6 separate regions of the Homo sapiens genome follow, and regions 1, 3, 4, 5 and 6 are each linked to region 2. Evidence: fine-mapped expression QTL. A gene starts in region 2. Each other region holds a variant in brackets. All regions are shown on one strand. Distances are from middle to middle.

The links. PIP is the estimated chance that this variant, and not a neighbour inherited with it, causes the effect.
Region 1: its variant is fine-mapped to the expression of AP2A2 in whole blood (TOPMed, PIP 0.99).
Region 3: its variant is fine-mapped to the expression of AP2A2 in whole blood (TOPMed, PIP above 0.99). The same link has a PIP of 0.9 or more in blood mononuclear cells and gastroesophageal junction.
Region 4: its variant is fine-mapped to the expression of AP2A2 in whole blood (INTERVAL, PIP above 0.99).
Region 5: its variant is fine-mapped to the expression of AP2A2 in whole blood (INTERVAL, PIP above 0.99).
Region 6: its variant is fine-mapped to the expression of AP2A2 in whole blood (TOPMed, PIP above 0.99).

The regions. Positions count from the first base shown.
Region 1 is chr11:967,314-971,394 of GRCh38, forward strand. It overlaps AP2A2 (adaptor related protein complex 2 subunit alpha 2), which reads left to right. Exons shown (of 22, transcript NM_012305.4): 3 at 2,856-2,998. Among named protein-coding and RNA genes, the nearest start is that of AP2A2, 43 kb to the left of the region's middle. RefSeq lists enhancers at 2,554-3,055, 3,056-3,555. The variant G/C (reference allele first, on the strand shown) is at 1,694.
Region 2 is chr11:923,846-927,926 of GRCh38, forward strand. It overlaps AP2A2 (adaptor related protein complex 2 subunit alpha 2), which reads left to right and starts at 2,025. Exons shown (of 22, transcript NM_012305.4): 1 at 2,025-2,243. The coding sequence starts at 2,177. RefSeq lists a silencer at 1,837-2,376.
Region 3 is chr11:991,430-995,510 of GRCh38, forward strand. It overlaps AP2A2 (adaptor related protein complex 2 subunit alpha 2), which reads left to right. Exons shown (of 22, transcript NM_012305.4): 11 at 1,074-1,256; 12 at 1,855-1,952; 13 at 2,325-2,556; 14 at 2,643-2,816. Among named protein-coding and RNA genes, the nearest start is that of MUC6, 43 kb to the right of the region's middle. RefSeq lists an enhancer at 2,855-3,379. The variant C/G (reference allele first, on the strand shown) is at 2,316.
Region 4 is chr11:950,896-954,976 of GRCh38, forward strand. The region is part of intron 1 of AP2A2 (adaptor related protein complex 2 subunit alpha 2); the gene reads left to right. Among named protein-coding and RNA genes, the nearest start is that of AP2A2, 27 kb to the left of the region's middle. RefSeq lists enhancers at 3,088-3,696, 3,804-4,081. The variant T/G (reference allele first, on the strand shown) is at 1,710.
Region 5 is chr11:1,026,017-1,030,097 of GRCh38, forward strand. It overlaps MUC6 (mucin 6, oligomeric mucus/gel-forming (gene/pseudogene)), which reads right to left. Exons shown (of 33, transcript NM_005961.3): 9 at 3,479-3,599; 10 at 3,212-3,350; 11 at 3,030-3,134; 12 at 2,873-2,945; 13 at 2,630-2,767; 14 at 2,210-2,371; 15 at 1,949-2,043; 16 at 1,669-1,801; 17 at 1,252-1,501; 18 at 1,125-1,177; 19 at 925-1,034; 20 at 311-462; 21 at 1-125. Among named protein-coding and RNA genes, the nearest start is that of MUC6, 8.7 kb to the right of the region's middle. The variant C/T (reference allele first, on the strand shown) is at 2,363.
Region 6 is chr11:996,513-1,000,593 of GRCh38, forward strand. AP2A2 (adaptor related protein complex 2 subunit alpha 2) reads left to right here. Exons shown (of 22, transcript NM_012305.4): 15 at 3,920-4,081. Among named protein-coding and RNA genes, the nearest start is that of MUC6, 38 kb to the right of the region's middle. The variant G/A (reference allele first, on the strand shown) is at 2,327.

The sequences.
Region 1 (4,081 bases), 43 kb after region 2:
AGACACCTGATGCTCCGTCCGTGCTGTGCTGTTTCGTTTTATTTTTTTATTTTATTTTATTTTTTTGAGATGGAGTCTCGCTCTGTCACCCAGGCTGGAGTGCAGTGGCGCGATCTCGGCTCACTGCAACCTCTGCCTCCCGGGTTCATGCCATTCTCCTTCCTCAGCCTCCCGAGTAGCTGGGACTACAGGCGCCCGCCACCACGCCCGGCTTATTTTTGTATTTTTAGTAGAGACAGGATTTCACCGTGTTAGTCAGGATGGTCTCTATCTCCTGACCTCATGATCCTCCTGCCTCAGCCTCCCAAAGTGCTGGGATTACAGGCGTGAGCCACCATGCGCGGCCCTGTTTCATTTTTATAGTAACCTGCTGAGAAAGTTGGGCTCAGAGAGGTTAAGGAATACGTCTGAGACCACAAGACAAGCAAGTGGCTGCATCTTTCAGACTGGAGCCCAAACTTAATCGTGATCCTTTTATGGTTTAGGATGAGGTTTTCCAGCCATCTCTCCTCTGATCTGCACAAACCAAGGAGACAGATATTACTGTTATCCTCTGCCTTTTATAGCTCAGAATATTAAAGTTCAACTCAACATTTTGAAATTACTAGAATAAAAAAGTAATTCTAGCCTAGTACTGAAACCAGCATTTTGAAGACTGTATCAGTCTGGGTCCTTTCAGGAGGGATAAACTTCACAGTGGCACCTGCCAGGGGAGCTGGCGGGCTCACCTGCCACCTGCCCCACCGAGATGGGTGAGGGTGTGGAGCGAGCATTGCTGCTTGTTTCCTGTGGCCCTGGGTTAGGCCAGGAATCCACGTGCTGCCACATGAGCAGCGGGCCGAGCACTGTGGCTTTCTCCTCGCGCTGGCGACTTCCGCTGCCCCTCACGGTGCTTATGCAACAGGGGTGGTGTGCCCAGGGGAGTGCTCTGTGACATCTCTGGGAGGCCCAGAGGTGATCCTGCATCACCCTCACTGACCAGTGGGCTCAGCTTCTAAAGGTGGGCCTAAGTTTCCCAGCACCCGGGAGCTCTAGAGCAGCTCTTCGTCTGGGGTCCCGCGGGAGCAGAGGCTGGTCGGCTCCTCTCGGAGAGAGCCTGTCTCCGTCTCCGCCCCTGTTCCCATCCCCGTCTCCATCCCCGTCCCCATCCCTGTCCCACAAAACTCAGCCCAGTCGGGCCGCTGGTCCTCTCCCCTGTCAGTTATTTTTTCCTTTGAGAGGTGCTTTGAGTAACAGGGAAGTCTCCGGAGGGAGGAGGAGGTCAAGCAGTATTTTTGGCTGTGGTTGTCCAAGGCGGCTTCCAGCGGGTGATGGAATCTGGGCTGGGTAGGAGACACGGTGCTGGGGCTTCCCAGTGGAGGATCTCTGCTGCGCAGCCCGTGCTCAGCTGTGTGTGCCCTCCTGCACAAACAGGGCACGGAGAACGTGTCTGCTGGGACCCCTTGGGCACAGCAAGCAGATAAGTGGGTCGGGGCCGGGGGAGGGAGGAACCAGGTCGGGTCTGCTTTTATTTATATCATCTGGTCTTTTAAATTATGTTAATTTGCCGCTGACAAGGAGGGGGGTTTCTCATGAGCTCCTCAGAGTGCAGCATGCAGCTGACTGGCCGACTGGTGATGCACCGTTCCCCAGGAAATGTGGCCGGTCTGTATTCTACACAGTTGAGGTCGTCCGTGGAGGTGTGAGCGCCCCA[G/C]CCCTTCACAAGAAGGGGGCCAGAGCGGCTGTCGCAGCTGGGCTGTCTTCCCAGCCTGCGTTCCTTCACGCTGTGGCAGCAGAGTCTCTGTGAGACTCGGCCTGCACAAGGCCACCTTTCTCGCTCGCCTCCACAGCCTGCTGGAGGCTGGCTCTGAGGGACACTCCCTCACCTCTCAGGTGGGATAGAAACTCCTGGCAATGTAGAACAGCCCTTTTTTTTTTTTTTTTTTTTTTTTTTTGAGATGGAGTTTTGCTCTTGTTGCCCAGGCTGGAGTGCAATGGTGTGGTCTTGGCTCACCGCAACCTCCGCCTCCCAGGTTCAAGCAATTCTCTGCCTCAGCCTCCCGAGTAGCTGGGATTACAGGCATGCACCACCACGCCTGGCTAATTTTGTATTTTTACTAGAGATGGTGTTTCTCCATGTTGAGGCTGGTCTCGAACTCCTGACCTCAGGTGATCCACCTGCCTCGGCCTCCCAAAGTTCTGGGATTACAGGCGTGAGCCACCGTGCCGGGCCCAGAATGGCCCTTTTTTTAAGGGTTGGTTTTATATTTTGGAATTTTATATTCTGCCAATTACATGTTTTGAACCTGCCCTGCCATGATCCCTTGTGAGGGGCTCAGACAAACTGCGATGAGGCAGAGAAACAGAAGCCCTAGGGGCCGTCGCGTGTGGGCCTTGTTTTCATGACCAGCTGATTTGCCCTAGAATGGCTATGAAGTGGCAGATAATTTAGACTGTGTTCATATGCCTAAATTAAACTGATTTCAAAGACAAGCTTGATGGTTGAAGGCAGGGTTTGCAAGTTCCATCACAGCAGGGCCCTCTGTGGGATTTTGGCTGGTCGGAGTGAGGCCCTGTGAGGGCCAGCTGGGCTGCACCTGCCCAGGGTTGTCGTGGGAGGGTAGAACTCTTGTTGCCAGATGTTCTGGTGCCTGTTTTTAAAAGGGAAATAAAAAACTTGGACTCTCATGAGTACCATGAGTTTAGAAAGGTTATTCATGCTCAGCAGCGTCTGCACTGCACCTGCCTGGGCCCGGCCACCCCTCTCCTGGAGGCTTGTCCGTGCTGCCTGCTGTACTGCTGCACTGCCCTCTGCTCTCCCCTCTCCCCTGCCTCTGCCCGCCTGGAATAAAACCTCTTCCCCACCTTTTCTGTAGGTGACAAGGCTCTTGATGGCTATAGTAAAAAAAAGTACGTCTGCAAGTTGCTCTTCATCTTTCTCCTTGGTCATGACATTGACTTTGGACACATGGAGGCTGTGAACCTGCTGAGTTCAAACAGATACACGGAAAAGCAGATCGTGAGTATCGCTGCAGGTGGAGACGGCAGAGGATGGCGTGGGCCTGGCAGGACTGAGGCCCGGTGCCCGTGTAGGGCCGCTGCTTCCTTCTCTGCCCACAGCTGACGTGAGCCACGTGGGTCTGCTGCAGATGGAGACGCGTGCCCAGTCCTTGTTAGCACCTGCTGCCAACACCCTGCGGGCCCCCTTCCCGCCCAAGCTGGGTGTTCTTCAGGAAGCCCTGATGCCCTCACAGGGTTCCTCCTCCTGCATGCGGTTTTCCTGATGAGGTGGCCATGCCTTTTCCTCCTTTCTTTGCAACCTCCCTTACGGCGAGTTTCAGGACTGCCCGGTTGGTCTGGAGAGTGCCGCACGCGGCCCAGCGTTTGATGTGGTTGGTGCTCTGTGCCCATGAGGTCGGCCTCCAGAGGAGGGGAGGATGTCTCCCTGACACAGTGCCTTGTTGACGCACTGTCCCAAGTAGACCCGTCCCGTGGTCCCTTGGACAGCTTTGTTTCTGCAGTAGGCGCTGGAGGCACATGGCTGGGTCTTGGTGCGGAGGGTGCTCACCCCACCATCTCCCCAGCCCTTGCCGGGCTGGTGCACAGTGTCCTGTCACTCTACTTTTGAAGTCTTCTTGGGCTCTGCACGTTGAGCTGTGTAGTCTCTTGCAGTCACATTATTTCTATGTTTTCCCTGGTGGTATAAAGTAATATTTTCTTCCATTTGTCAAAAAATTTAACTTAGAGAAATTAAGAGAGACTGTAGATGTCTTGGGGTTTTGATAAGTATTGGTGTTTATTCAAGCATTTGTGGAGTGCCTGTGGTGTGTTGGGGGGATGGGGGATTAGCCTTGAGGACGGAGGCACAGGGACTGGAACTTGGGCCTGCCCTTGTCCTGGGGGAGATGGGTGTCACATGGCTCCACAGACATAGAAGTTGAAAGGATTTGAGAGAGGGAGTGGAGGTGGGTGTGTTGAGCTGAGGCTGGAGGGAGGGGAAGTTAACTGGGGGCTGAGGGTGGGAGGAGCAGGGAGAGCAGAGCAGGTGGTGCCTGGCAGTGGCCTGGGCGTGCGAGCGCAGGGCTGAAAGGGCAGTGGTGTT
Region 2 (4,081 bases):
TGGCAGTGGTCAGAGAGGCCCACATGGACTCAGACCCAAGGCTGGGACTGGAGTGAATCATCTGGAGGGCTTGCGTGTCTGCAAGGGCAACGACGCTGGAAGGAGGTGGGAAGTCTTTTGCATGGCTGCATGTCGGGCCTTCTGGGACCCCTAAACACTCTTGTGTGGACGGGAGGATGTCTGTGGGAATCCCAGAGCTGGCACTGAGGAGGAGTCTTCCGAGTGGGCGGAGGGGGATGCCTGCCAGGCCCAAGCCCTCCTGTGGGCAGCCCCTGCAGCACCCCCATTGCCCTGCTCTGTGAGTGGCTGCTGGTGGGGGGGCACAGTGGTCTGCTTGTCTCGGTCTTCTGCACTGCCACTGCCAATGGGAGCTTGGATTAGGCATGCCAGCCTCCTGACGCCCAGAGCCCATGCTCTGCCCACGTGTGTTAGTGGACGGTCCTCGTGACTGCTGGGACTGTCCTGGAGAGCAGCCCAGGACCCCTCACATGGCACAAGATGCTCTTGTGTCCAGAATGGCCTTTATTTGTTGTCAGGGACAGGGGAGGGAAGCTTCTTGGTGGAAGGGAGAGGCTGAAGAATGAACAGCCCCGGGACCACTTTCTCTGCCAGGAGGTGGCACTGGGAGAGGATAGGGACTCCGGAGGGGTGTACCGTCCTCCAGGAAGCCCTCTGCTGGGTCGGCTCCGTGCCTCTGTCTTGGGAAGTGATGGACTTGGTTGCCTTATGCTGACTGGGGTCTGTCACAGATCTTGGTTTTCCCCAGGAGTTCTGGAGGCCCAGAGCCTGGGTGCGGCACCCGGTTCATTGGGGAGGGGCATGGGTCCTGTGCCCTCCTCCTGGCCGGGCTCCACCAGGGCTAAGCTCTCATCTGGGGCTGCGGAAGTGAGCCAGGGTGGGGACAAAGCCCTGGCTGGTGGGTCTGGGCCAGTTCCAGGTACAGGGTCCAGATCCCCCCACTGCAGCAGGAGGGAGCTTCCTGTTCAAAGCCATCTGGCTCTGGGAAGGACAGTGAGGCAGGGCCATCTGCTTCCCCACTCCCTGGGGTCTCTTCCTGGCCGGGACCTGGAGCTGTGCAGCCTGGCCCAGCAGGTCCTCCCTTGCGATGTGTCCACAGGGGTGGGCCTAGGCCTCCAGCTTGCAGTGGTGCAGAGGGCTGGGGAGCAGAGGGGGCCCTGGCAACAGTGGCCAAAAGTCCTGGCGCCGCCGAGGGACTAGATTCCGCAGGGGCTGCCGCCCCCGGCCGCTGTCACTGGGGTGGGGTGGGTGGTTGTTTCTCTGCAGGCCCAGGTGATGTGGAGGGGGCACCTGGGCTGCCACACAGACCCTGGGCTGGGTCGGGCACGGGGCCTGCCTCGCCCCCAGCTCAGGGACCGCAAGAGATGTGGCCCTGGCGGCTCAGGGCGGCAGGAGGGGCGGGCCAGCCCCACCGTCTCAGGATACCGTGCTAGGGGAGGGTTTCCTCGCCAAAGGCCGTCCAGCGGCTGTGACCCCTTCGCCTGGAGCCCCAGCTTCCTCCCGGCGCCGCCCTCCCGCCCCGGCCCCCGCGGAACAAACAAGGCCCTGGCCTCGGAGCTGCCCCGCCGCCCAGCGCTCACAGGTCGTTTATTCCAAGTAAGAAAACGGAGACTGCTCGGGGCAAGCTAGCGGGGCCGAGGCCCAGGACGAGGCCGTACGCGTGTGCCTGCGTGGCCGCCTCTTTTGCAGTGACCACCAACAACGACAGAGGCGGCCCGCTGCACACGCGGGTTCCCGCCCGGACCCACGCCCTTCCCGTGGGGGACGCGGGCGGCATCGCCAGCTTGGCGCGGCCCCGGGACGCGAACGCGTGGCTTCAGCGGCTCCGTCCATGGTGTCCGCCTGCAGGGGGCGCCCCCGCGCCTGCCTCGACCGGCTCGCCCCCGTGCCGCGGACGCGCGCGCGCTGCCTCACGCGACACCCGCCCCGGCCGCCGTCCGTCGTCGCTCGCGTGCGTGCGCGTGCGTGCTGGTGCGGGCGCCGTACGTGCGCGCGCGCGGCGGCCCAGAAAGCGGCGCTGGGACCCTGAGGCGGCCGTGGTTAGGCGGCTCCCCGGCGGCTCCTCCGCGGCGGTGACGGCGACCGCACTCCCCGCTTCCCGCTCCCCGCGCTCCTCCGCCCGGGTCCGCCAGCCGAGGCCGCTCCCGAGCGTCGGAAGATGCCGGCCGTGTCCAAGGGGGACGGGATGCGGGGCCTGGCGGTCTTCATCTCGGATATCCGCAACTGTGAGTGGCGGGGGCGGCGTGGGGCCGGGGCCGGGGCCGCCGGCGGAGACGGGGTCTGGGAGCGGAGGCCCGGGGCGGGGCCTCGAGGCGGGGGTGCAGGCTGGGATGCGGGCGGGGCCCGGGGCCTGAGGGTGCGGGCGGCGCTCGGGGTCTTGGGGTACCGGGTCTGGGGGTGGGGGCCAGGGTGCGGGGTGGGGGTCCAGGGTCTGGGGGTGCGGGCGGCGCTCAGAGTCTTGGGGTATCGGGTATGGGGGTGCGGGTCAGGATGCAGAGCGGGGCCCTGGGTCTGGGGGTGCGGGGTGGGGTGTCCAGGGTCTAGGGGTGCGGGGTCTAGGGGTTTAGGGCACGGCCCTTCATCCACATCTCCACTCCCGTTTGCTGGTCCGTGCGGGGGGCTGCGGCACCACCAAGGGGGTTCCGGGCCAAGACGCCCCTCCCCAGCATGATGTCACCTTGGTCTTTCTAGTACTGGAGCGTTTAACCCAGCGTTTTCCAAAACGGCGTGGATTTTAGCTTTGGGAGCAGAAATCTGGAAATCAGTGTCTTCCCAGGAAACAGCTTTGTGACCTGGGTTCTGGAGGCTTATTAACCCCTGATTAGATCTCACCTACGACGATTAAAATGACTCATTCCCGGAGGGAATCTGGACACGAGCAGCAGTCGGGGTGTGGGATGGCCTCGCTGCCTGCTGCTCCAATCACAGACCTCGTTCTCAGCCCCGTGCCTGTCCCCTCGGGGTGGGAAAAATCCACACCAAACCGTTAAACAAGCCAGGAAGGCTGGGCCTGTTAGAAGGATGTGCAGGGTGGCTGGGTGGGTGCACCGGTCCACCAATTAATTTGACTTTGGTGTGCAGAACCTCCTCTTGGCTTTCAGAGGCCATCTCCTTATTTAATTTGAGGGAGAAACAAAGCCAGTTTCCTGTCTGCTGCGTTGATTTTTTTCCTTGTTATCCAGCAAATAGTTGACTTCATGATTTTTGTTTTTCTTTTTTTTGAGACAGGGTCTTGCTCTGGCTCTCAGGCTGGAGCGCAGTAGTTCCATCACGGCGCACTCAACCTCCCACCTCAAGTGATCCTACCACCTCAGCCTCCGGAGTCACTGGGACTACAAGCGTGCACCACCACCATGCCTGGCTGATTTTCGTGTTTTTTGTAGAGATGGGGGGGTCTCGCCATGTTGCCTAGGCTGGTCTCGAAATCCTGAGCTCAAGTGATCCACCTGTCTTGGCCTCCCAAAGTCCTGGGGTTACTGGCGTGAGCCACGGCACCCTCATAATTTTTAATGTGTATTTTGAGGGACTGTTGTGATCTTCCCTTTGAATTCTCATCTCCTTAGACGGGATGGAGGATCAGGAGGATAGTGGTTCTCCCACACTCTGTGGAAGGGTAGAGGACCATCTAACCCTTCCTGTACTCTGTTAAAAAAAAAAAAAAAAAGCATAGAGCTGGGTGCGGTGGCTCAAACCTATAGTCCCAGCATTTTGGGAGGCTGAGGCAGGTGGATCTTTTGAGCCCAGAAGTTTGAGACCAGCCTGGGCAATGTGGTAACACCCTGTCTCTACAAAAAAATACGAAAATTAGCTGGGCGTATTGGTGTACACATCTATAGTCCCAGCTACTTGGGAGGCTGAGAGAGGAGGATCACTTGACCCCAGGAGGTTAAGGCTGCAGTGAGCTGAGATCGCGCCATACTCCAGCCTGGGTGACAGAGTGAGACCTTTCTCACAAAAAAAAAAAAAAAAAAAAAAAAGGCTTAGAAACACCCTCAGATCAGCACTTTTACGAGTAGCATTTTTTCTCTTTGTTTGTTACATAATGAGACCAACATGCATTTTG
Region 3 (4,081 bases), 68 kb after region 2:
CTGGTCTGGAGAGGATGATGGTGCAGAGGCTACTGGGAGGGCAGAGCATCCGTTCGTGGAGGGGTGGGAGGTACCTTAGCACAGGCTGGGGAGCAGGGCACGCGAGGCAGGGGTGGAAGCAGACATGGGGACCCTGCCAGTGAGGCCTGAGGGCCCCTGGTGCACAGCCGTGAGCTGCGGGTAGGGCTCAGAGGCAGTACATTTTGGAATGATGCCCTGGAAGTGTCACGGAGTCAGGTTGGGGTTTGGGGGTCCAGGCTCCAGGCAGGGACTTGGGGTGGGGGGGCACAGTCACCAGCACCTGAGAGGCCAGTGGCAGGGTGTGGAGAGGGGGCGGCAGGGTGTGGGGAGGGGCGGCAGGGTATTAGGGGTGCCCTCGGGAGGTGCGCGGTCTTGATGCCTGCTGGCGTTGGTGTTGGCAGCTGGCGCTGTTCGAAGGGGGCTTGGTTCCAGGCGAGGTGACTTTGGGGAGATGAGTTTGGTGTTGTACAGCCTGGCAGAGCTCCATGTGGGTGGCTGCCACGTGGGTGTGGGCTGGGCAGGTGCCTCCGGGGGGCACCCGTGAGAGTGAGCCAGAGAGGGGAAGAAGGGGAACCCCCAGGTGAGGCTCGCAGGAAAGACTGGCCAGAGCCGGAAGAAACCAGCAGAGAAGTGGCCGCCGGGAGCCCAGGGTGGCGCAGTCACTGGCCGCCGGGAGCCCAGGGTGGCGCAGTCAGAGGTCAGAGGAGTGCTGCCACCGGGAGCCTAGGGTGATGAGGTCAGAGGAGTGCTGCCGCCAGGTGCTGGGGCTTTGGGAGAGAAGGGCCCAGGTGGGAGGTGGCCTGGCTGTGGCCGTGGCCTTCTGTGCACTGGTCTCCGCCTCTTCCTGGCTTTCTTTGCTTAAGTCAGGGCATCTTAAACTTTCTGGGCTCGTGGGCTTTTTTGAGAATCGAGTTCAAGCTTCCTCCATGTCCCAAACTTTTGTAGACACATTGAGGTGCTTCTGAAACTCTCACTTTGACTTTGGACGACAGTTTGGTCTTGGGATTGCCATGGCCTGCAGGTGCCGGCCCTCAGCAGCCTGTCCCCCACAGGTGCTGAAGGTCGCCATCCTGGCTGAGAAGTACGCGGTGGACTACACCTGGTATGTGGATACCATCTTGAACTTGATCCGAATTGCTGGTGATTACGTGAGTGAAGAGGTGTGGTACCGAGTCATTCAGATCGTCATCAACCGGGACGACGTGCAGGGCTACGCGGCCAAGACTGTGTTCGAGGTATGGCCCGCAGGATGGCAGGAAGGATGGGGTGGAGGGCAGTTGCAGAAGGTGAGCAGTGAGTGGTTCCAGCCTGCCTGCGTGGAGGTGCCGAGGGCCGTTGCTGACCCCTCTTGCCCCTCAGCTCTTCCCTGAGGCTCTAGCTCCTCCACTGTTGGTGCCCCTTGCTGAGTCCCAGTTTCTTCTCACCCTAACTCTCAAACTTCTGGCTCTCTGGGGGCCACCTGAGAAAGCCGGCCTCTGTGTGTGTGAGAGCATGCTGGGGCATGCCGTGGTGGGGCCTGCCCTGTCCGTCGGAGAGGGTTAGGCCACCGGCAAGGGGTGTGCCATGAGGACGCTGGCAGAACCTCCCCAGCCAGAGCCTGTTGTGGATGCTGCAGCTCCCTCCAGGGCAGGTCAGCGTGTGGCAGCCTTGGGTTCCTTGCTGCTGACACAGGTACTGAGGGTGCTGAGGAAGGCAGGGATGGGCACTTGGACTGGGGTCTCCAGGAAGCTGAGGGGCTGGTGCTGGTGTAGGGTGCACCGCGCCAGGACGTGCCCGCCTCGCCTTAACTCTGGCACCTGGCTGCCACCCCGGCTCATTGTTTGTGCTTCGCAGGCTCTTCAGGCTCCCGCGTGCCACGAGAACCTGGTCAAAGTGGGCGGCTACATCCTGGGGGAGTTTGGAAACTTGATAGCTGGAGACCCGAGATCCAGGTGAGAGGCCCTTTGCGAGTCGGGGCTGTGTGCGCTCCGGCGGGCCTCTCGGTGGTCGGTGGCAAGAGGCGAGGCACCAGCTGGCCCTGCCGTGAGGCCTCGCAGAGCCGCTTCTGCTCCCCATCGGCGTCTTTTTGTTTTCCTTCAGTTGATAGAAAAAGCAGGGATTCTAGTAGAAAATGGAGACGTGGGGTTGATGGCTGACTTAGTGAAAGGGGCGTCTTTGCGGTGGGATCTGGAGCTGGAAGAGGGTCCCGACCAGCGGCCTCTGGTGCAGGCCAGGGGGTCTCGCCGCCGTCCCCCCCCCGCGGGGGCGTGCTGCAGCCTGCGAGGGGACGACGGTGTCCCTGTGTTGTGCCTCCC[C/G]GTCCCCAGCCCGCTGATCCAGTTCCACCTGCTGCACTCCAAGTTCCACCTGTGCAGCGTCCCCACCCGCGCGCTGCTCCTGTCCACCTACATCAAGTTCGTGAACCTCTTCCCGGAGGTGAAGCCCACCATCCAGGACGTGCTGCGCAGCGACAGCCAGCTCAGGAACGCAGACGTGGAGCTGCAGCAGCGTGCTGTGGAGTACCTGCGGCTCAGCACCGTGGCCAGCACCGACATTCTGGTAGGAGGCCCCCGCCCTTCGGGCTGGCTTGGCTGAGGGTTGGAGGCCAGGAGCTCTGACCAGTCCCACCCTGTGTTCTTTCCAAGGCGACCGTGCTGGAGGAGATGCCCCCATTCCCGGAGCGGGAGTCCTCCATCTTGGCAAAGCTCAAGAAGAAGAAGGGCCCCAGCACGGTGACAGACCTGGAGGACACCAAGCGGGACAGGAGTGTGGACGTGAACGGGGGTCCTGAGCCTGCCCCAGCCAGTACCAGCGCCGTGGTGGGTCCCTCACCTACTGTGCACCCAGACCTGTCAGGGCCTCACCCCCAAGACTTGGGACCAGCAGAGCATTTGCCTGTCAGGGAGGAGCATGTACTGAGAACCCAGGCTCTGGCTGTGGCTCTGGACACCCCGCTGTCCTGTCCTGGGGGCCACTGTCCCTGCTGGACACGCTGCTGTCCTGTCCTGGGGGCCACTGTCCCTGCTGGACGCCACGCTGTCCTGTCCCGGGGGCCACTGTCCCTGCTGGACGCCCCGCTGTCTGTCCCGGGGGCCACTGTCCCTGCTGGACGCCCCCCTGGCCTGTCCCGGGGGCCACTGTCCCTGCTGGACGCCCCGTTGTCCTGTCCCGGGGGCCACTGTCCCTGCTGCACACCCTGCTGGCCTGTCCCGGGGGCCACTGTCCCTGCTGGATGCCCCCCTGGCCTGTCCCGGGGGCCACTGTCCCTGCTGGACGCCCCGTTGTCCTGTCCCGGGGGCCACTGTCCCTGCTGGACGCCCCCCTGGCCTGTCCCGGGGGCCACTGTCCCTGCTGCACACCCTGCTGGCCTGTCCCGGGGGCCACTGTCCCTGCTGGACGCCCCCCTGGCCTGTCCCGGGGGCCACTGTCCCTGCTGCACACCCTGCTGGCCTGTCCCGGGGGCCACTGTCCCTGCTGGACGCCCCCCTGGCCTGTCCTGGGGGCCACTGTCCCTGCTGCACACCCCGCTGGCTTGTCCCGGGGGCCACTGTCCCTGCTGGACGCCCCTCTGGCCTGTCCCGGGGGCCACTGTCCCTGCTGCACACCCCGCTGTCCTCTCCCGGGGGCCACTGTGCCTGCTGGGCAAGGCACTTCCTTCAGACCGTCGTCTTGTCCAGCTCAGCTCACACATCCTCTGTGGTGCCTTGTTTTAGGGGAAGTGGCCGTCCCCTCTCCTACAGGACTGCCTCACCCAGGCAGCTGTCCTCACATGCTTTGTTGATTTAGAGAGGACCTGTCCTGCCCTGCTCTTCGAGGTTTTATGTAGTGAGTTGGGTTAGGTCTGGTTTTCCTTGTATGTGTGATGCGATGAGAATAATCCTGTAACAGAATGTGTCCTGTGGTATTTGTCAGGTGAGAAGTGTCGTTTTGAGAGTTGCGTTTTTGCTTGGCTCTGCTTGCCAGCTGTTCCCCTCTGCACTGTCAGGGAGGGCTCCTGTCGGGGTCAGGCGGGCTTTCTGTTTGTCCAGTTAGAGGACCTGTCTCTCCAGGACGCAGGTCCAGTGGTGGCAACCAGTGCTGCTAC
Region 4 (4,081 bases), 27 kb after region 2:
CAGCCTAGCCAACATGGTGAAACCCCGTCTGTACTAAAATACAAAAATTAACTGGGTGTGGTGGTGTGCACCTGTAATCCCAGCTTCTTGGGAGGCTGAGGCACAAGAATCACTTGAACCTGGGAAGCGGATGTTGCAGTGAGCCGAGGTCATGTCACTGTACTCCAGCCTGGGTGACAGAGTGAGACTGCATCTCAAAAAAAAAAAAAATTGATGAAGTATTAAAATATATATTTCTTCCAAATAGATTTACGAATGTTCAATAAGCATATAAAAGCTATCAGAAAAATGCATATCAAAATCACAATGAGATACTGCATCACACTTACCCAGATGGCTGTAATAAAAAAGATGAGGCCAGGCACTCCCAGCTGTAATTCCAGCACTTTGGGAGGCCGAGGTGGGTGGATCACCTGAGGTCAGGAGTTTGAGACCAGCCTGACCAATATGGTGAAACCCCACCTCTACTAAAAATACAAAAATTAGCTGGGCGTAGTGGCAGGCGCCTGTAATTCCAGCTACTTGGGAGGCTGAGGCAGGAGAATTGCTTGAACCTGGGAGGTGGAGGTTGCAGTGAGCCGAGATCGTGCCACCACACTCCAGCCTGGGTGACAGGGCGAGACTCCGTCTCAAAAAAAAAAAAAGAACGTGTGAGTTTATCCCTGGTGATGGGCACAGTAGCTTCTCGTGGCTGGACCAGTGCTTTGCTCCTTATTTCACACTTCTCATCACAGCTCTTTCATTGATGGCACACCCATTTGAAGAAGAGAAACCGAGGCAGGTTGCGGTTAAGTTGATAGCCCAGGGTCACGTAGCTAGTAAAACATGGAGTGACATTCCAGTCCAGGCCTGATTTCAGAGTTTGCTTGGCTGACTGCTGTGCTAACCACCTTAATAGTAATTTTAGCAATTATAGCTTCCTTCAAAAATTCTTGGGCTTGGTCAATTTTGGGCTTTTGGGTTACTCGGCGGAATCACTTTATTTCTTTGAGACAGAGTCTCACCTTGTTGCCTAGGCTGGAGTACAGCGATGTCTGTCCTGGCTCACTGGAGTGTTGACTTCCTGGGCTCAGGTGATTCCCCCCACCTCAGCCTCCCTAGTAGCTGGGACCACAGGCATGCACCACCACACCTAATTTTTTAAAAAATTATTTATGGAGACCAGGTCTCCCTATGTTGCCTAGGCTGGTCTCGAGCTCCTGGACTCAAAACAGCCCTCCCACTTCAGCCTCCCAAGGTGCTGGGATTATAGGCGTGAGCCACTGCCCAGTCTGAAATCACTTTATATACAGACTAAAACTCTGTAGACCAAGTTTTGCTGCACATTGCAAGGACAGAAGATTTTGGTACTTTGGTATTTTATAATCATCTGTCATAGGCTCCTTTACTATTTTTTGTGGAACTTGGGCTGTTCCCAGAATACTAATCCTCTCTGTTGATTAGTTCAGCCTGTAAACAAGAAATCATTAACCAGCATGCTGTTCCTGAAGAATGACCAGGGACAATAATTGTAAAAATTCAAGAGCTTTTATCCAAGCCTGCCCCTATAGAGTGTGTTCTTTGCTACTTCATGGAATGCAAATTGTAACTTGCTTTTGCCAGTAGCTATGGCATGTCCAGGTTACTCATTAGCCACCAGAGCTCCTAAGTTCACTGCGAGAATTCCCTGATGCAAGTACAGTACCCTTAGTGCTGATGGGCTGGCTGCA[T/G]TTCAGACAGGAATAGTGCAGGATGACTGTGGCCAGCGTCTCTTTAACAAAGATCAGACTGTGTGTGGGGCTGGGCTTGTTGCTGTGGGTCAGTTACTCTTTAACAAAGATCAGACTCTGTGTGGCTGGGCTTGTTGCTGTGGGTCAGTTACTCTTGCTCATGCTTTACCCTTTCAGAATTCAGCTCCTCCCCGCTTCTCCTCAAGCTAATTTATCTAAAAAGATAAGATTTTTTTGCTAGATCTGTTCCCGGCACGGTGGGGTGGTTGAAGTCCTCCTGTGAGGCCCTCTGCCTTATGGAGATCAGTGCAGTGTCAGTGGCACGAATTGGTGCCTGGCCAGGAGCACGCTCTGCTCCTTTACAGGAGAGCCCCTGACAGGCACTGGAGGGCTCAGATTGTTACCTGCGTCCGTCATGACTGCAGGGGTGCTGCGTTGATCATGCAGCTTCTACTAGAGCGTTTTTGGTAAATTTGGGACATGGTAGTTGACTTGAATGTGTCAGTCTTGCCTGCAGGTCATCATCCGTCATCTCAGCCATGGTCGTGCTGGATTGTCTTTCTTGTTTTTGAGACAGCCTCTCTCTCTGTCACCCAGTCGCCCAGTCTGGAGTGCAGTGGTGTGATCTCGGCTCACTGCAACCTCTGCCTCTCGGGTTCAGGCAATTCTTCCACTTCAGCTTCCCCAGTAGCTGGGATTACAGGCGCACGCCACCATGCCCAGCTAATTTTTGTGTTTTTACTAGAGACAGGATTTCACCATGTTGCCCAGGCTGGTCTCAAACTCCTGACTTCAAGTGATCCACCTGCCTCAGTCTCCCAAAGTGCTGGGATTATAGGCGTGAGCCACTGCGCCTAGCCTGAATGCGTATTTTTATGTGAAATTAGTTTTCCTGAACTGTCAGAGGAGGCATGGTCTGGGTGGCTTTTCTACCGTAAGAGCCCCCCCCCCCCATTGTCTTCACACAGTGGCCTGCCTGGCAGCTGCAGTTGGAAGTCCCTGGCTCCGTCCTGGCTCCGTCTGCCTCCGTCTGCCTCCGTCTGCCTGCTGTCCCTGCACCTCCCCTTTTTCCTGCTTTTGCGTCGTCTCTGCTCAGTAGGGGCGCTGGGCCAGGTCACTCCATCCCTGGTTCTTGCATCATGCTCAGCCCTCTGTGGATACTGGGGCTGCTTAGGCTCTCCTGTCCTCAGGTCTGGCCGAGACGTGACACTACTCTTCTCTCTACCTTCTCTCTTTTTTTTTTTTTTTGAGATGGAGTCTTGCTCTGTTGCCCAGGCTGTAGTGCAATGGCGCGATCTCGGCTCACTGCAACCTCCGCCTCCTGGGTTCAAGCGATTCTTCTGCCTCAACTTCCTGAGTAGCTGGGATTGCAGGCGCCTGCCACCATGCCTGGCTAATTTTTGTATTTTTAGTAGAGACGAGGTTTCACCATGCTGGCCAGGCTGGTCTTGAACTCCTGACCTCAGGTGATCCGCCCGCCTCAGCCTCCCAAAGTGCAGACGTGAGTCACTGTGCCTGGCCTCTCTACCTTCTCTTGCACAGACATGATGCCGTGAGGTTGTACGGCCGTTGGTGGCTTTCCTTTTGAGGGAGCTGGAGCTCAGAGGCACAGCAGAATGAGTCAAAGGCTGCACTTGGATTCCCACCTCACTTGGATTCCCACCTCACGTGCTGGCCCCAAAGTTCACTCTTGTCATCACCTTCCATGCTTCTCCCCCTCCTCAGGGGCTGGCCTGCCCTCGTTTTAAAGTGTGTGTGTATGCGTATATTTGTATTTATGCATGTGTGTGTACATGTGTGTATTTGTGTGTGTGTATGTATTTGTGTTTATGTGTATGTATGTATATGTGTATATATGTTGTATTTGTGTTTATATTTGTGTATATATGTTGTATTTGTGTTTGTGTACGTGTGTATTTCTGTGTATCTGTGTATTTGTATTTATGTGTGTTTGTAAATGTGTGTATATGTATATTTGTGTGTGGCGTGTACATTTGTGTATTTGTGTGTATTTGGTTTATGTGTGCTTGTACGTGTATTTGTGTGTATATATGTGTATTTGTGTTTGTATAAATGTGTATTCATGTGTGTTTGTAAATGTGTGCATGTGTGTATTTGGTGTGTGTGTGTGTGTATTTGTGTGTGTGTGTGTTGAAAATTGGGCAATTAAAAGCAAGCTGTGGATGGGAAGCTGGAACTTGTCTCTGTTTCTGTCCCACAGAGGAGGGGGGTTAACTGCCTGTTTCTCCTGGTGGTTACCTCTATAACTCTACATTATGTGCTGTTTGTTTTAGTTTGTGGTTTCACAACCTTATATAAAATCTGTAGATTCCGTTTAGGAAAGTTGATTTAGCTCATGTAGTAGTATTTCC
Region 5 (4,081 bases), 100 kb after region 2:
CGCAGTTGCCGTCGAATACGAAGCGCTGGCCGTCGAAGGTGATGACGTGGCCCTCCCCGTAGAGGGTGCAGGTGGATGGGCAGTGGGTGCCCTGCTGACAGGCCCACCTCCCCCTTGAGCAGGAGCTGTGGAGACAGCAGGTGTGGGTGGTGGGCCTGCGGCCCTCCTGCCATACTGGGTGTGGTCCCTGGAGAGGCCAGACTGCACCTCTGGACGCCCCCGCCTCTGGGACAGCCCCACCCCGGGCAGCCTCCGCCTGCCCCAGATGGCCCCAGGAGCCCAGGGCGTCTGAAGCGAGGCTTTGTCTCACCAGGTCCTGCAGTCAGTGTGGAGCTCAGCTCCTCCAGGGTAGGAGACCCCCGAGAACTCACATGGGCACTCCTCGGGGGGCACACACTGCCCGTCGGCATTCTCGTAGAGGCCCTCGGCGCAGACACAGCCAGGCTCACACTTGGTGGGCACCTGGAGGGAGGCAGGTCAGCAGCTCCTGGGAGGGTGGCCTCAGCCAGCTGCTGCCCAGCCCTGGGCCCCTCTGAGACTGCCCGGCGTGTCTCCCAGGTCCTCTCCCTGAATACAGCCCTGCTCTGTGGCCTTTGTGGGCAGCTGGGCTTACTGCCTTAGCAAAGCTTCCCCCACCTCGTGGAAGGTCCTGGGACCCAGTGCACACGGCTGGGCTGCTGTACCCACTCCCACACATGGGCAGCCCACCCTCCCCGAGCTGGTGCCCACTGTCCTTAGGGAGCCCTGCAGACGAGCCCCCGGGGCCTCCAGCTGCCTGGCCACAGGGCCGCTTCCACCTCGTGGCCAGCCCCAGGCACCCGCTGCAGGGCAGAATGCGGCCAGGTCTCCCGGAGTTCTGTGGAAACCCCCTCATGGTTCAGCTGGGGCCCGGGCATTGTCCCTGCTCCTCGCGCGCCCCCTTACGCAGGCAACACCGGTGGCCAGCATCTGGCATGTGGGGGCACAGGCTGCCCCAAACTTGTTCTCGGAGGACTGGCTGCAGGACTTGAAGGTCTTAGGGGCCTGGCAGGAGGCTGCAGGAAAGAGGGGTGCGCGGTCAGGACACTCAGAGGAAGCCGGGGCCCCTCACAGTCCCAGCCTGCGGCCAGCGCTGCTGTACGTACCCAGGAACATCTGTGGCCGCTGCGGGCAACTCAGCCGCCCGTTGATGCAGTGGCTGCAAGAGAGAGGCTGCGTGAGACCCCGGGACCTGGCAGGGACCCCCCGCCTGGCCCCTGCCCGGTCCCTCACCAGGTGATGCCGTTGATGACAGTGGACTGCTCGGCCAGGATGAACTTGTAACCCTCCAGTATGCACGGGCACTGGGCCTTGCGCACACACTCGCCCTTTTGGTTCAGGTAGGTGCCATCGGGGCAGTTGCAACCGTCCACGGGCACGGCGCTGTGGTGGCACTCGGTGGCACGGTCCGACAGCGACAGGCAGGTGCGCTCACAGGCTTGGCTGTTGTAGCTGAAGGTGGTGTTACCCGTGCAGGGGATGGCTGTGGGGGACCCGGGCATCAGACTCTCCGGGAGGGGGCGGCCGGGAGGGCAATCTCGGGTTCCCCTGCCTGCCGGGCACTGCAGAGCCTCAGAGCTTGGGGTCCCAGGACACCCCCTCGTGAGCCCAGCCTGCCGTGACCCCGCTTAAGCCCCGTCGGGCACTCACTGCAGTTGTCCACACTGCTTCTCCAGCCCCAGAGCAGGACGCCCCGCAAGGAGCAGGCGTGTACGTAGTCGCCCAGGGCGGCACAGATGTGGGGAAAGGTCTCCTCGTAGTTGCAGGCCTGGTACACGCACCTCTGCGGGCAGAGAGCCAGCATGGGCTGGTGGCAGGCACCCTGCCCTGGGGACATGGGGGTCCCAAACCTATGCCCTTGGGTGCCTGAGACCTTGTCAGCCACCACAGCCTCCCCTGCAGCCCTCCCAAGACGCCCTCGGGCCCTCACCTTGTAGAAGGGTGCAGGGTTCACTGTGGCGTGGCACCTCTCGAACACCGTGCCTGTCCTCAGCAGCATGGAGCAGTGGGTCTCTGCACACACCTCTGGGGATGACAGGCCCGGGCGTGAGTCCCGGCCCCTCCCATTCCAGCTACGGCTCCTCCCAGGGACCCCCCACCCTGGCAGCTGGGCCTGTGGTCCAGTCCAGGGGTCTGTCAGAACTGTGGGCGCTGGGGGGGCAGCCAGGGGAGTGGGGGGCCGGACACTCACTGTTGAGCTGGCTCATGGAGCAGGGGTCAGTCTCACGCTCCAGAGCGGCCGGACAGTTCCCCGCCCGCCAGGAGTCCACAAACAGCGAGGCGGTGCCCTCGGCGATACCCATGCTAGTGGTGAAGTCATCCGTTGTGTCCCCGTTGAAGTTGC[C/T]GCAGAGCCCTGAGCCGGCGGGGCGTGAGCTCGACTTGAACCCATCCCTCCTGCACCCATTCCTGCCCACACGCCCTGGAGCTCCCGTCCTTCCTCTAACAGCACCCTGGGTGAGAGGCTGCGTGGGCCACACGTGCCTGTTACCCCTGGGGGCTCCCCGGACACAGAGGGTTGTGTGAACCTCTCTTGGACCTTTCTCCTCCCCTGGTCATGGCCAGACCCTGTAGGGATGAGGCAACAGGGCCACCTGGAGAGGCAGGGACTCACCTCTGGTCTGACCTCTGAACTGGGGCCCAACAGTGACATAGGCCTGGAAGATGGGGCGCAGCTGGACCACGAGCTCCAGCCCGAAGCTGGTGGCCATCTGGAGGTGGGTGGACGTCTGCCTGAAGACCGTGATGTTGCCTGCAGGACGCAGTGCTCAGTGGGCCGTCTGGGCTCCCTCCCCACCCACTGCAGCCCGCCCCGAAGGCACAACTCTGGGGGGCCACAGACTGGGCCAGGACGTACGAGTCTTGTATGGCAGCCACTTGGCTTCTCCGTTGTTGGTGACCACCTCGTCCTGAGAGATCACAATTTTGTCCTGGAGAGAGGGTGGCCTGAGTCAGGGTGCAGGCACCAGGGAGCGGAGCCCTGCTGGCAGGGATGGGCGCAGGAAAGGCCTTACCTGCCTGGAGAGGTAGACCACAGCCACCAGGGAGGTCTCGGAGTGTGAGACGCCGGACTTGTCGTACACAGCCATGAGGGCACCGTCCTCGGGAAGCTGGGGGCTCTGCGAGGGGGCGGGGCTCAGACACGGGTGGGGTCACCGGGAGCGCCCCTCCCCACGGGCCACAGGGCTCGTCCTACCTGGAGGAGGATGTAGGTGCAGGTGCCGTGGAAGCGGTAGGGCCTGGCGTCAAATGTGGTAACAAAGGAGCCACCTTCCAGGGAGCAGTGTCCGGGGCACGGCCGCTCCGTGCACACCCAGCGGCCCAGGGTGCACCGGCTGTGGGTGGGCGTGGGGGTAGCGGCATGGTGGGCAGGGCCGCTGGAGCCAGACAGCACACCCCTGCCTGCCCTAGGCCAGTGGAACCCCTGCCGGCCGGCCAGAGCCCCCTCCGGCGCCTCACTCACCAGGTTTGGCAGGCAGCTATTGTGACCTCCCCGGGGGCATACATGGCGCCGTGGAGCACACAGGGGCACTGGGTGACGGGCACGCAGGTGTGGTTATTGGAGAGGTCATTCAGGACCGTACCTGCAGGAGAGGGTCTTCTTGGGGCTTGGGTGGGACTGACTGCCTCCCACTCTCCCCTCCCTGGCTCCAGGGAGACGCCCCCTCCAGCCTGGCTCCAGGGAGACGCCCCCTCCAGCCTGGCTCCAGGGAGACGCCCCTCCAGCCTGGCTCCAGGGAGACGCCCCCTCTAGCCTGGGCCATGACCTCTCTCCAGCTGCACTTGCATTCGCAACTCTATGTCAGGCCCTGGGCGTGCACAGCCCCTCGTGCCAATGTGCCCGGCCCAGGTTCCTGGTGAGTGGTGGCCTCCAGCAGGCAGGGACGTGTAACTGTCCCTTGGGCCCGGCTCAAACCCTGCCTTCCCTCGGCAGCTCCTAGACCGCAGTGAGCAGCCCTCACCGCCCGTGGGTTTGCAGGGGTGGCCGTGGCTGGGGGACCTGCAGGCTGTAAGCGTCCAGGCGGGAAAAGCCTGTCCCAGGGCAAGAGGCGCCAGAGCTGGGACT
Region 6 (4,081 bases), 73 kb after region 2:
TACCCCAGGCCTTTGATCACACCCAGGTTTGTCCGGCTAGGCTCAGGGTGGACTTTGGAGGGCCTGGCCTTGACTGTGTGGCTTAGGGATCAGATGGAAGCTTCTGGACCCTGGGAGTGAGAGCAGTGTGCTGCCCTCTGAAAAGGAGGATGAGGGTCCAGTGAGGTTCAGCATTTCTGTAAGGTGCCTTCTTGGAGGGAGTTCCCCCTTCAGGGCTCATTCAGTGGATTTTCTGAGTGTGGCTTCACTCCTGATGGTCAGTGGTGCCTGGCGGGTGGGTTCCTTAGGGAGGTGTCTGTGGCCGAGGCACGCAGCTCTGTTCTGAGCTGAGAGCTGTGGTGTGTGGGCACCTCCGTCCTGACTGAGAGCTGTGGTGTGTGGGCGCCTCCGTCCTGACCGAGAGCTGTGGTGTGTGGGCCCCTCTGTTCTGACCGAGAGCTATGGTGTGTGGGTGTCATTGCTATCCTGTGCTTTCCAATCTGTTCCCATTGCTCACGGGAGCCCCAGTGAGAGGCCCCTCCCTATGGGGAGACACTCCTGGCGAAGTTTTCTTGCTCAGGGTCTTCTGTATGGGCCGTGAAGGGGCCTCAGGGTGGCATCAGCACATGTGCCTTTCCCACGAGAGACAGTGGCTTTATCTTGGTGTCACATTGGCCAAAATGTCTTTTATTTAACATCATAGATGAGGCCAGGACATTTTACTTCTTCCGAGCATCCTCTTTCTGCACACAGCTCCTTGGGGGAGGCTGTGGTGTGCGTGTCCCCGGGTGTGCTGGGGAGCACAGGGGTGTGGGGATCAGAGGCTGCCTGGCTTCACATGCAGGAGCCTGGGGCCCTTGTAGGCAAAACCTTCACCCCTCAAGTTGTCCTGCTATTGGAGGGAGGAGGTGAACTGGTGTGGCCCAGGAGCCAGGCCTGCTCCCTGAGGAGGGTCTCCCAGGCCTGAGAGGATAAGGAAGATGAAGAACCTGAAGTGGGTGTTAGGACCCTACTGTCCTGGGGCCTTGCATCTGGCCTCGCTGTTACAATCTGTGGTAACGTTTCAGGTACAAATGCCTTTACTAGGGCAAAGGGCTTTCCTACTTTAGAAAGCAGTTAAAAGCCATAGATGGCTGGGCATGGTGGCTCACACCTGTAATCCCAGCGCTTTGGGAGGCTGAGGTGGGCGGATCACTTGAGGTCAGGAGTTTGAGACCAGCCTGGCCAACATGGTGAAACCCCGTCTCTTCTAAAAATACAAAAATTAGCCAGGTGTGGTGGTGTGTGCCTGTAATCCCAGCTGCTCGGGAAGCTGAGGCAGGAGAATTGCTTGAACCCAGAAGGCGGAGGTTGCAGTGAGCTGAGATTGCACCACTGCACTCCAGCCTGGGTAACAGAGTGAGACTCGGTCTCAAAAAAATAAAATAAAATAAAATAAAAGCCATAGATGTATTTGAATCAGTGCAGGAACCAGGGTAACATCTGTGATGAGATGCAGAGGAGAAACTGTCTCCATTTGGGCTGCAGGTGCATGGCCATGGCCAAGGCCGATGGCTTCCCACGCAGCTCACAGCTTTGTCAGGCTGTGGAGGCCACAGTGTTGGCGGGCGCTGTCCCCGGCGTAGGGAGCAAAGCGCCGCCTTCAGATGGTCTCATCGAGACACGCCTTGGATATTTTTGGGACTCTTCTCTGCCAGCTCCTCTGTGACCTCCCACCCTTGGAGCACATGAGACCCGTGTCGTCTTCTCTTGCAGAGGTGCTCCGTCACAAGAGCAGAGCCTGGGAGCCTGCCCCGTTTCTGACTGCCCCCCAATCCCCATTCTGACTCTCACCCGCCCCCATTCTGACCCCCCGCCCCCATTCTGACCTGCACCTTTTTTGCATAACACACTTTGTGATGCCTCATTTATCTTTGAGTAAAATTCATATATCACAAACCCACACATGTAGTTTTTTTGAAAGTACAGTGTGACACCTTAACTTTGCATTAATGTAAAATGGCATTCAGGTGGAGTCTCAGATAATTACAAACTAATTTTTTACCTTCTTAGATGTCCAGTGGAACATTCTAAAGTTACTCAAGACGAATCTTCAAGTTAGGGTGTCTTGTGTCTCTGTTTTTTGCCTGTGAAATGCCAATATCCTTGTGATAGTCAGAGCCCTCCACATCTCCAGAACGCTCTTAGCTGGGTGGGGGGTTTCTCCACCAAGAGCCCCTGGTGTATAGTGTCAAAGTGTGAGTGTTGCCAGGCTGTAGTTCAGTGGTACGATCTTGGCTCACTGCAATCTCCGCCTCCTGGTTTCAGTTCTCCTGCCTCCACCTCCTGAGTAGCTGGGATTACAGGC[G/A]TGTGCCACCACACCCAGCTAATTTTTGTATTTTTAGTAGAGACGGGGTTTCACCATGTTGGCCAGGATGGTCTCAATCTTCTGACCTTGGGATCTGCCCCCCTCGGCCTCCCAAAGTGCTGGGATTACAGGTGTGAGCCACCGTGCCAGGCTGGGTGTCCTTTTTATAGGGAGCATCTGAGTCCCTCTGGTGCACAGGCTGCTGTGGGGCAGGACCCGTGGAGCCCAGAGCAGGTCTGAGCTCCCAAAGTCAGGCTGCTGGGGCATTGCTGGGGAGCCTGCTGCCCTGTTGGATGGGTGAGCATGCGATGGACTGAGCTGCTGCTTGTGCCCTGTTGTGAGAGTTTAATCATGAGATCATAGGCGCTCTTTCCTTGTGCCTTTGCCCCAGGATCAAAGAGCAATTACTGGGGCCGGGTGCGGTGGCTCATGGGAGGCCGAGGTGAACGTATCACCTGAGGTCAAGAGTTCGAGACCAACCTGGCCAACATGGTGAAACCCTGTCTCCACTGAAAATACAAAAATTAACTGGGCGTGATGGCGGCCACCTGTAATCCCAGCTACTTGGGAGGCTGAGGCAGGAGAATCGCTTGAGGTGGAGGTTGCAGTGAGCCCACACCAGTGCACTCCAGCCTGGGCAATAGAGTGAGACTGTCTCAAAAAAAACAAAAACAGAGACAGTCTCTTGCTATGTTGCCCAGGCTAGTTTTAAACTCCTGGACTCAAGCAGTCTTTCTGTCTCAACCTTCCAAAGTGCTGGGATTACAGGTGTGGGGCACCATGCCCAGCCAAAAAGCAATTATTTTTTAAAAGTATCCGTTCTGTAGACTTTTAATGATTAATAATGATTTAGTAATAATTTAATGATTAATAATGCACCCGAGTAAGTTATTTGCTTTTTCATCTTTGGAAGCTTACTTTCTTATTGGACAGTTGGCAGTAACATGCATGATCTTAGTTCTTTCTTTTTTTTTTTTTTTTTTGAGATGGAGTCTCGCTCTGTCGCCCAGGCTGGAGTGCCGTGGTGCGATCTCGGCTCACTGCAAGCTCCGCCTCCCGGGTTCACACCATTCTCCTGCCTCAGCCTCCCGAGTAGCTGGGACTACAGGCGCCCACCACCACGCCCGGCTAATTTTTTTTGTATTTTTTAGTAGAGATGGGGTTTCACCGTGTTAGCCAGGGTGGTCTCGATCTCCTGACCTCGTGATCCGCCCACCTCGGCCTCCCAAAGTGCTGGGATGACAGGTGTGAGCCACCGCGTCTGGCCTTTTTTTATGTCTTTCATGGCAAAATTTTTTTGAGAATTTTTTTCATTCAAATAGCATTTGTGAAAAAATGTAGGGTGCCTTAGTGAAATTATGACTGATGTTTTAAGTGCAGTTATCTTTAGGCTGGAGTCTGGGATATACTCAGGAAGTGGCTGTTAGCCCTCACTCTCTGGTCACTCACTGAGTTGTGTGCCACCTGCCCCAGCCACTGGGAGTGCATGGATGCCAAGGGGGTGCCATGGGGGAGGACGTGCAGGCGTGAGCTGCCTGGGGTTGGCCAGGCCAGGGAGGCTCTCTGCTGATGCTCTCCTTCCTTCTCTTCCAGTCTACGCCTTCTCCGTCGGCAGACCTGCTGGGTCTCGGGGCTGCCCCCCCTGCCCCCGCGGGCCCCCCACCCTCCTCCGGCGGCAGCGGGCTGCTCGTGGACGTGTTCTCAGACTCGGCCTCTGTGGTCGCGCCTCTCGCTCCTGGCTCCGAAGACAACTTT